Linked DNA regions of Homo sapiens. The protein of the gene in region 1 interacts with the protein of each later gene in a pairwise test. Each region holds a gene or a part of one and is shown on either strand. Other genes may lie near its edges.

Region 1 (5,116 bases):
CACCCAGAGCTAAGGCAGGCCCAATTCCTGACCCAAAGAAACTCAAAGATAATTAATGTTTGTTTTAAGGCACTAAGTTTTGGGGCAATTTGCTAGGAAATAGAGAACTAGCCCATTTGTCCCACTCAGTAGCCCATTCCTTTAAGTCTTTCACTACAGAAAACAAAATGGTTACTGATTTCATTTTCTGCAGTTCTGTTTTATTTTCAACTCATTTTGATCTTTTAATCTTAAGTGACAATATTTAAGATTTTTAAACTTTGTTTTCTGTAGTATATCATCTCTAATTTGCATGAGTGCCCCCACAAAACCACTGAAATGTCATTCCAATGTTTTATTTTATAGAATGAGATTTTTGATACAAAATCATGTAATACAGTTCAAAAGGAAAATTTAGTGATTTGCCAAATTAGTTAAGTGACAGGAGTGAAGCAGCTGTCCATACGCATTACCCAAAGGTGTGCAGGCCCCAAAACAACACAGTTCAGCCCCTGCCCTTCAACCCTGGCCCTTAGGAATTTATGGGACAATAAGGATGGGAAGGGGATAGTCCCTTGATCTTCTCAAACTTTTCAATCACTTGGAGAGTTCTGGTTTCCTTCAGAAAAGACCAATCCTAAAATGGCCCTTCTCTGAGATGTCAGCTGATGAGACTAACCAACAATTATATTACTATTGCTAGCAAGCAGTTACTATTAAGCATGTACTAGACACAAGGCACTAAATTATGCACTTTACAAACATTCTATTTAATTCAATTATTTAATTCGAATTCTCCCTATAAGGTTAAGCACTGTGAGTCCCATTATACAGAGGATCAAGTTAGACCCAGAGGAGGTAACCTTCTTGTACATGTCTCCTGGGGACACATGGGAACTCGTTTCTTCATAATATATTCCTGGGGATAAAACTGCTGGGCCACCATATGTGTCTTCACTTTACTGCGTAATGCCAAATTGTTTTCCAAAGCAGTGGTACCAATTTTTACAGCAAGAGCAATGTTAATAGAAAATGTTTATTGACCACTTCAATGTTTATTTTTAAGTACTCAGTAAAGTATTGTCCATTTTTCCATTGCGTTGCCTGCCATTTTCCTAACTGGTTTGTGGGAATTTATTATATATACACAATGTATGTCCTTGATTAGTTAGAGGTGTAATGAATATTTTCTACTTCATCATTTATCTTTCTTAATTGAAATATGGCCAAATTTATTAGTCTTTTCCTTTAGGATTAGTATACTAGTTTTAAGAAACACCTCCCTACACTGAGATCACAAAAACAATCGTATTATTTCCTCAAAGCTTTATAGCTTTGCATTATTATTGTATAGCTCTGTAGTATTTTCTCAAAGCTTTATAGCTTTCCTTTCACATTTAGGTCTGATGTGGATACCTGGAGTTTATTTTTGCACATGGTGTGACCAGGTAGCTCATTGTCTCAGCACCATTATTTAAAAAGACCATTACTGCCCACTGGTCTGCAGAGCCACCTCTGTCTTAAATCAGACACAGATCTGTTTTTTGGTTCTCTCCATCTGTTTCTCTGGCCCATCTGTTTATCCTTGTGCCAACATCACACAGCCATAATTTCTATAGCTGTAAAAAAGAGAGGATTTCTGATAGGTTTCTCTTCAAGAATGTCTTGGCAATTTTTGGCCCTTTGAGGGTCATATAAATTTTAGAATCTGTGAAGTTGCATAAAAATAATCATGTTGAGATTTAGATTAGTACAATATTGTCTCTATAGATCAATTTGGGGAAAACTGAAAGGCTTAAATACTGACTTTACTAATCCACGAACATAATATATCACACCAGTTACTTAATGTTCTTTGATAGCTCTCAACGAAGTATATTTTTCCCTATCAGAGTTTTGCGTATCTTTTATTAATTTCTTCCTAGTTATCTTATTTTTTATATTATTGTAAACATATTTTTAAATTAAAAAAACCCAAAACAGGGTCCCCCTCTGTCACCCAGGCTGCAGTGCAGTAGTAGCACAATCATAGCTCACTGCAGCCTCCTGTGCTCAAGTGATCCTCCCACCACCTCAGCCTCCCAAGTAGCTGGGACTACAAGCATGCACCACCACACCTGGCTAATTTGTTTTAACTTTTTGTAGAGACAGGCTGGACTATGTTGTGCAAGCTGGTCTGAAACTCCTTGGCTCAAACGATCCTCCTGCCTCAGCCTCCCAAAGTGCTGGGATTACAGGTGTAAAACTCCCTGCCTATATTTTATTTTCTATTTGCTAGTGATACATAGAAATACAACTGGTTTTGCATCTTGATTTTGGATTCAGCATTCACCTAAACTTATTAATACTTATGATTTAACTGTAGAATCTTTATTTTCTACACATAGAAATCTCAGTGCAAAAATATGCAACCATATTATCTACACATGCCAGTTTTGCTTCCCTTCTTTCCAAACCTTACATCTTTTATTTATAATTATTGGCTTACTTCATTGACAAGGCTATCCCACACAAAACTGAATAGAGTTGGTCATAATGCGCATTCCTGTCTTTTTCTTGATCTCAATAAGAAAGCTTTCAATGTTTTGCCATTAAATGTGATATTTGCTGTAAGTTTTTTTGCTAGATATACTTAATCAAACTAATGAAATTCCTTCCATTTCTAGTTTCCTGTTTTTTTAAACACAAAAAGATGGTAAATTTTATCAAATGTTTTCTCACTGAGATAATTATATTAAGCAACACAGAATTAGGTTTCGTTTTCTTATCCAGTCAGATCAACATTTTCATTTAACTGGAGTATTTAACACATAATTACCGATATGTTTGCATTTAAATCTGCCACCTTGTTCTGAGCTATTTGTCTTGCTTATTCTATTTTTCTTTTTCTTCCTTTCCTTTTTTAAAATTTACTACACATTTTTTATTCCATTTTCCCCTTCTGTGCATCTAGTGGTTCACCTAGGAAATATGACATGTAAGAAGTGTGAATTTGAATGCATCTAAACAATATTATTTTGTTTGCTTTTGGTATTAATTTTAACCCTAAATATGCTTAGATTACAAATAGAACTACCACTCAAGGGGCCTGCCTGTAGCCCAAGGAGCACATGAATGAGCAGAGATGGGCAGTAGCAGGGGCCCACAACAGATCTGGAGCATCCCCCAGCCCAAGCTCAGGAGAGCAAACAAGCTTCGATGTTAGCATCACATTATAACATTAAGATTTTTTATTTATTTATTTTATATTTTTTACTTTTTTGAGATAGAGTCTCATTCTTCTTGTCCAGGCTAGAGTGCAGTGGCGCAATCTCGGCTCACTGCAACCTCTGTCTCCCAGATTCAAGCAATTCTCTTGCCTCAGCCTCCCAAGTAGCTAGGATTACAAGTGCCTGCCGCCATGCCCAACTAATTTTTGTATTTTTAGTAGAGACAGGGTTTCACCATGTTGGCCAGGCTGGTCTTGAACTCCTGATCTCAGGTGATCCGCCCGCCTCGGCATCCCAAAATGCTGGGATTACAGGCATGAGCCACCGCGTCCAGCCTACGTTAAAGATTAGTTATAAACACACACAAAATAGGTTTTTATTCATACTAAAGGATCCAGAATGTGATCATATAGACTACATGATTTCCCAAAAATGACAAGTTGATTCCTTAAGCAACAAATTTCAATTGCATATTGAAGATCTTAAGCACTTTACAAAATCACGTTACCCACAATTTTCATTAACAGGACAGGTGCTCTGTGGTATAGCTGGAAGCAGGAAGGTAGGGGCAAGGGAAAGAATGAATTTCATTGCACAAGGTCTTCATAGCCTCTTTGCAAGGACTTACCAAAGTGCTAGAGTTGCATGTGAAACCAGCTCTGTCTGGCCTGAGCCAGGTTTTCTGTCTTGTGAGACTTGATACACACTGTTGCTCTGCCTGGTTCCCACCTGCTTCCCCCAACTAACCCAACATCACCTTGAAAACTCGGCTCTAGTACCCCTCATTTCCTCCAGGAAGCCCCCCGATCTTGCCAGCTCAGGTTCCATTCCAGGGCATCACAGCACCCTGGCCACCTCTGTCTCAGCACTCACTATCCAGGGTAATAGCTTCTCTTTCCTGAGGGCAGGTCTTAACCTCCAGGTCCTCTCTACCTTGCATAGTGGTGCTCGGTACACTTCTGCAGAAGGAATGCTTGCTCTGCAAGGTGAGAGACTTTGTTTTGTCCCCTGCATGTCCAAGTCCCTGCACAAAGTAGATGTTCAGTTAACCACCTGCCCAGTCAATGAGTACATGGAATGCCTGTGTTTTTTCTGCTATATACCTTGCCTCCTGGACTGAAGGTTAGGAGAGCTGGTTTGGAGCCTTGTCTTTGTCACTATCCACTGGTGAGTTGGTAAAAAGTTCCTTCTCTCTTCGGCTATCAGGCTCCTCACCTTAAAAATGAAAGCAGAGAAGTCTCTACAGTCTCCCAAATTTCACGATTTGTTTTCAGGCAGATTGATGTAGCAGCCAAGAGTTCTGGCACCTGGCCGACCAGGTTCAAATCCCAGCACCTCTACCTAGTAGCAGGTGATCTTGAACATGTTCCTTCACTTCTCTGCACCTCCATTTCCTCATCTGGATAAGAGGGATAAAAAATACTACCAAGCTCAAAGGACTGCTGTGAGGACTCCACAAATCAATCCCTATAAGATGCTTACATGAGAGTGGCAGGCACATGCTGTGCATTCGGCATAGCTCTTAAGTGCCACCTACATGCCAGGTAACCTAACTGTCCTGCTGGATATGGTCCAGGTTTCTTAAATGAACAGTAAAAATGCATGGAGCTTTCTTATGCAACTCCAAATCAGTCTCCCAGATCTGTCTTTCCCCTTTGTGTTCAGACCTCCTTCCAAAGCAAGTGTCTGCCATGCAGCCCACTGCTGGAGGCCATCACTCAGGAGCCTCAGTGTGCAGGGTCTAGTGAGACACCCCCCACTCCCAATACCACTGGGCACAGGCCTGGACAAGCAAGCAAGCAACAATGTCCTCTGGTGCAACCAAAGAGCTGGTAAGTCCTCACCTAGAAGCTGGGGATCAGGATGGGGGTGAGTGGTTAGGAAATGGGGAAAAGCATTGGAAGGGGGAAGACCTGGAATGTGGCTTA
Region 2 (3,500 bases), on another chromosome or scaffold:
AAGATAGGGAATGTATAGGAAGAACAGAATTTGAGGAGGAAGGTAATAGAGTATGACTCCAGATGTGTTAAGATATCTGGGAATCAAGAAAGGTCAAGTAAGTACCTGGGTATTTGGGCTGGAGCTCAAGGGGACATTGGGATAAATTAGGGGATTTGCATTCATCAGTATAATGCCATATAGAAACTGCAGAAAGCCAGGCATGGTGCCTCACACCTGTAATCCTAACACTTTAGGAGGCCAAGGCAGAGGATCACTTAAGGCCAGGAGTTCAAAACCAGTCTGGGCAACGTTGTGAGACCCTGTTTCTACAAAAATTTAAAAAATTTGTCAGGTATAGTGGTAGCCACCTGTGGTCTCAGCTACTCGGGAGGCTGAGGCTGGAGTATGACTTGAGCCCAGGAGTTTGAGGCTGTAGCAAGCTATGATAGGGCCACTGCACTCCAGCTTGGGTGTCAGTGTAAGACCCTGTCTATAAAAAAGAAAGAGAAAATAGTACAGATTGAGTATCCTTTATCCAAAATGCTTAGGACCAGAAATGTTTTGGAGTTTTTTTTGACTTTGTAATGTTGGTATGCATATAATGAGATACCCTGGAGATAGGGCCCAAGTCTAAACTTGAAATTCATTTGTGTTTCATATACATCTTACAACCTGGATGCAGTTTTATACAATATTTTAAATAATTTTGTGCAGGAAACAAAGTTTTGATTCCATTCTGACTGCAACATGTCACCTGAGGTCAGGTGTGGAATTTTCCACTTGTGGCATCATGTCAACACTCAGAAAGTTTCAGATTTTGGAGCATTTCAGATTTTAAACTTTTGGATTAGGAATGCTTAACCATATCAGGAGTGAAGAAAAAAAACTAAGGGCAACCTTGAAGAGCATCTACATCTGAGGGTCAAGTAGAAGAATAGAAACCTATGAAGTAAGTTGAGAAAGAATGGCTAAACAGATAAGGTTATAGGGTTGAAGAAGCTGAAGAGAGGGATTAAGTGAATACTGACAGGGAAGTTAGCCGTGTGAAATACCACAGAGTTCATTGGTTTGGAGGGCAATGCCGGAGGATCGCTTGAACCCAGCACTTCAAGACCAGCCTGAGCAACATAGCAAGACCTCGTATCTATTAAAAAAAAAAAAATCATTGGGATAAAAACTGGACTTGGCATACGTGTATATATATATATATATATATATATATATATATATATACACACACACACACATATATATACACGTGTGTGTGTGTGTGTGTGTGTGTGTGTGTGTATATATATATATATATATATATGTATTGTTTTGCTGGGAACCATGATAGTTTAGACAGAATAGATTTCTAGAGCATTACTAAATTCAGGGGTAGGTCCTACAGAATCTAACTTAGTAGAAGACCCATGCTTAGAAATAGGTCCTGTTCTTCCATGTCTCTCTGCAATGGGAGTTGCAGCTTAAATGCTTTGGGAGATGACCCCCAATGACAAGGCTGCCTAAAAATCTCCATATTGTTTGGGTTGTTTTTTTTTTTTTTTGCCTCTTTTACATTGTCTTAAATTCTGAGAATTGGAGATTTCATTTGAGTTGACAGTGTCTTAAAATACAAATAACCTCTTGCAGAGTTTTGAGGTTTTATGATATTAATATGTTAAGTATGGGGGTTTTTAACCTGGGGTTTTCTGGTTCTGGGGTTTATATATTTTGGCTGTGTGACCCTGAATCCCTTAAAATTGTTTGAAAAGTTATGTGTGAGTGCATGTGTGATTTTTCTGGGGAGAGGGTCCACAACATTTATGAGATTTTTCAAGGGGGCTGTTGACACACAGAAAAGTCAAGGGCCTTTACTAAATGTTAATGATTAAATCAAGTGTTGGTTGTGTTCGTTGGCTGAAATCAGTTATCTCAACAAGTGAGACAGATCAAGGGAAAGAAATCTTGAGTAGGTGTCTCAGGTGAAGAACTTTGGAAAGATACGAGGAACTTCTTAGAAATGGGAGTAGGAGCACCAGAAGGAAGGTAGGAGGAATGCCAAAGCAAAGCTTAACCGATTTCAGAATTTTGTCAAGTCTCTGGATTGCTTGGTTTTTTTATACTCTAGGACTGACACTTAGTATATGTTTATTCATGCACTGTAGATACAGTAGGCTTTATGGGGTAGGGGAATCAAATCACTTTTTTTTTTTTTTTTTTGAGATAGAGTCTCGCTTTGTCACCCAGACTGGAGTGCAGTGGTATGATCTTGGCTGACTGCAACCTCCGCCTCCCGGGTTCAAGCGATTCTTCTGCCTCAGCCTCCCAAGCAGCTGGGATTACAGGCGCCTGCCACCATGCCCAGCTAATTTTTTATTTTTAGTAGAGATGGGATTTCACCATATTGGACAGGCTGGTCTTGAATTCCTGACCTTGTGATCCGCCCGCCTTGGCCTCCCAAAGTGCTGGGATTACAGGCATGAGCCACCGCACTGGGCCCAAATTACTATTGTTTTAAAGGGAAAGTGTTTTGAAAGAAAACAAATTGATAGATTGTGCTTGTTGGAAAAAAATTTTTCTACCAAGCTGGCTCATCTGTCAGAAAAAATTCATTTTTAAGTTAGGTGTTGCTTATGCTTTGGAAAAAATTTTAAATGCACAAATATTTCAGTCTAGTGATATGGGGCAAGACATTTATTTTCTCCTTGCAAATTTTTTCTGACCATGAAATGAAAATACCGTTGATGGTTTTTGTAGTGTCTTTCTGAAATATGACGATTATGGAATACTTTGAGATCCAGGATGATTTAATGCTAAGAAATTGCTGGCATTCACATTTCTAAAGTCGTGAATAAAATTAAGAAATTCAAGCACATTATGTGTTCACTAGATCTTACTTGATTTCCAAAATATTTCTTTTTGAAATTTTAGATAATTGGTAATTTTTACTTCCTTCTGCTAATCTTTGCATCTTTGAAATTAGATTAGGAGGCAGTTTTGTCAGCTAGGCCCTAGTTTCTGGGGCAGTGATATCCATACTTTTGCTTGCCACCCTCAAAATAAATTAATGCCACTTGGGATTAATTTGTGATTTTTCTGGGGAGAGGGTCTACAACTTTTATTTATTTTACCAGTAGTCTTGGTAAATACAAGAATGATATGAATAAATATGTTGGGTAATCTTAAACTTGTGTTATGTGATTTGTAATTAGCTTGTGTTTGTGGATGATCTTTACATTCAGTAAATCTCCAAAGAGGGCCCAGATAGAATGGAGTATTTTGTCTTTTCCTTTGGGAACTTTTTTTGGTTCTTTCTTTCATTAAACAATTATGAAATAAAATTTTTGGTAACAGATCTTCCATGTAAAAATAGCCCACAAATCAAAGAACTAGCCAAGATTTGCTAAGTAAGAACACATCATGGAATACCATCATAGAACTAGTCTCTTACCCCAAAACTAGCTGTAGGTGCTAAGTCTAAAGAAGAAGTAATTCTGATATGTTACCAGAATTATGTGGTAATGCGACTGAGT

What was found. Proteins that work in one complex are often made in the same cells at the same time.
Region 2: the proteins of TRIM35 (region 1) and NRF1 interact in binary tests that used the Homo sapiens proteins (3 or more experiments, as listed by UniProt).

What each region holds. Positions count from the first base shown.
Region 1 is NC_000008.11:27,300,470-27,305,585, forward strand, and holds part of TRIM35 (E3 ubiquitin-protein ligase TRIM35), read right to left. Parts: intron 4,375-5,116; exon of another isoform or gene 4,292-4,374; intron 1-4,291. UniProt on the Homo sapiens protein: E3 ubiquitin-protein ligase that participates in multiple biological processes including cell death, glucose metabolism, and in particular, the innate immune response.
Region 2 is NC_000007.14:129,618,220-129,621,719, forward strand, and holds part of NRF1 (nuclear respiratory factor 1), read left to right. Parts: intron 1-3,500. UniProt on the Homo sapiens protein: Transcription factor that activates the expression of the EIF2S1 (EIF2-alpha) gene. Links the transcriptional modulation of key metabolic genes to cellular growth and development.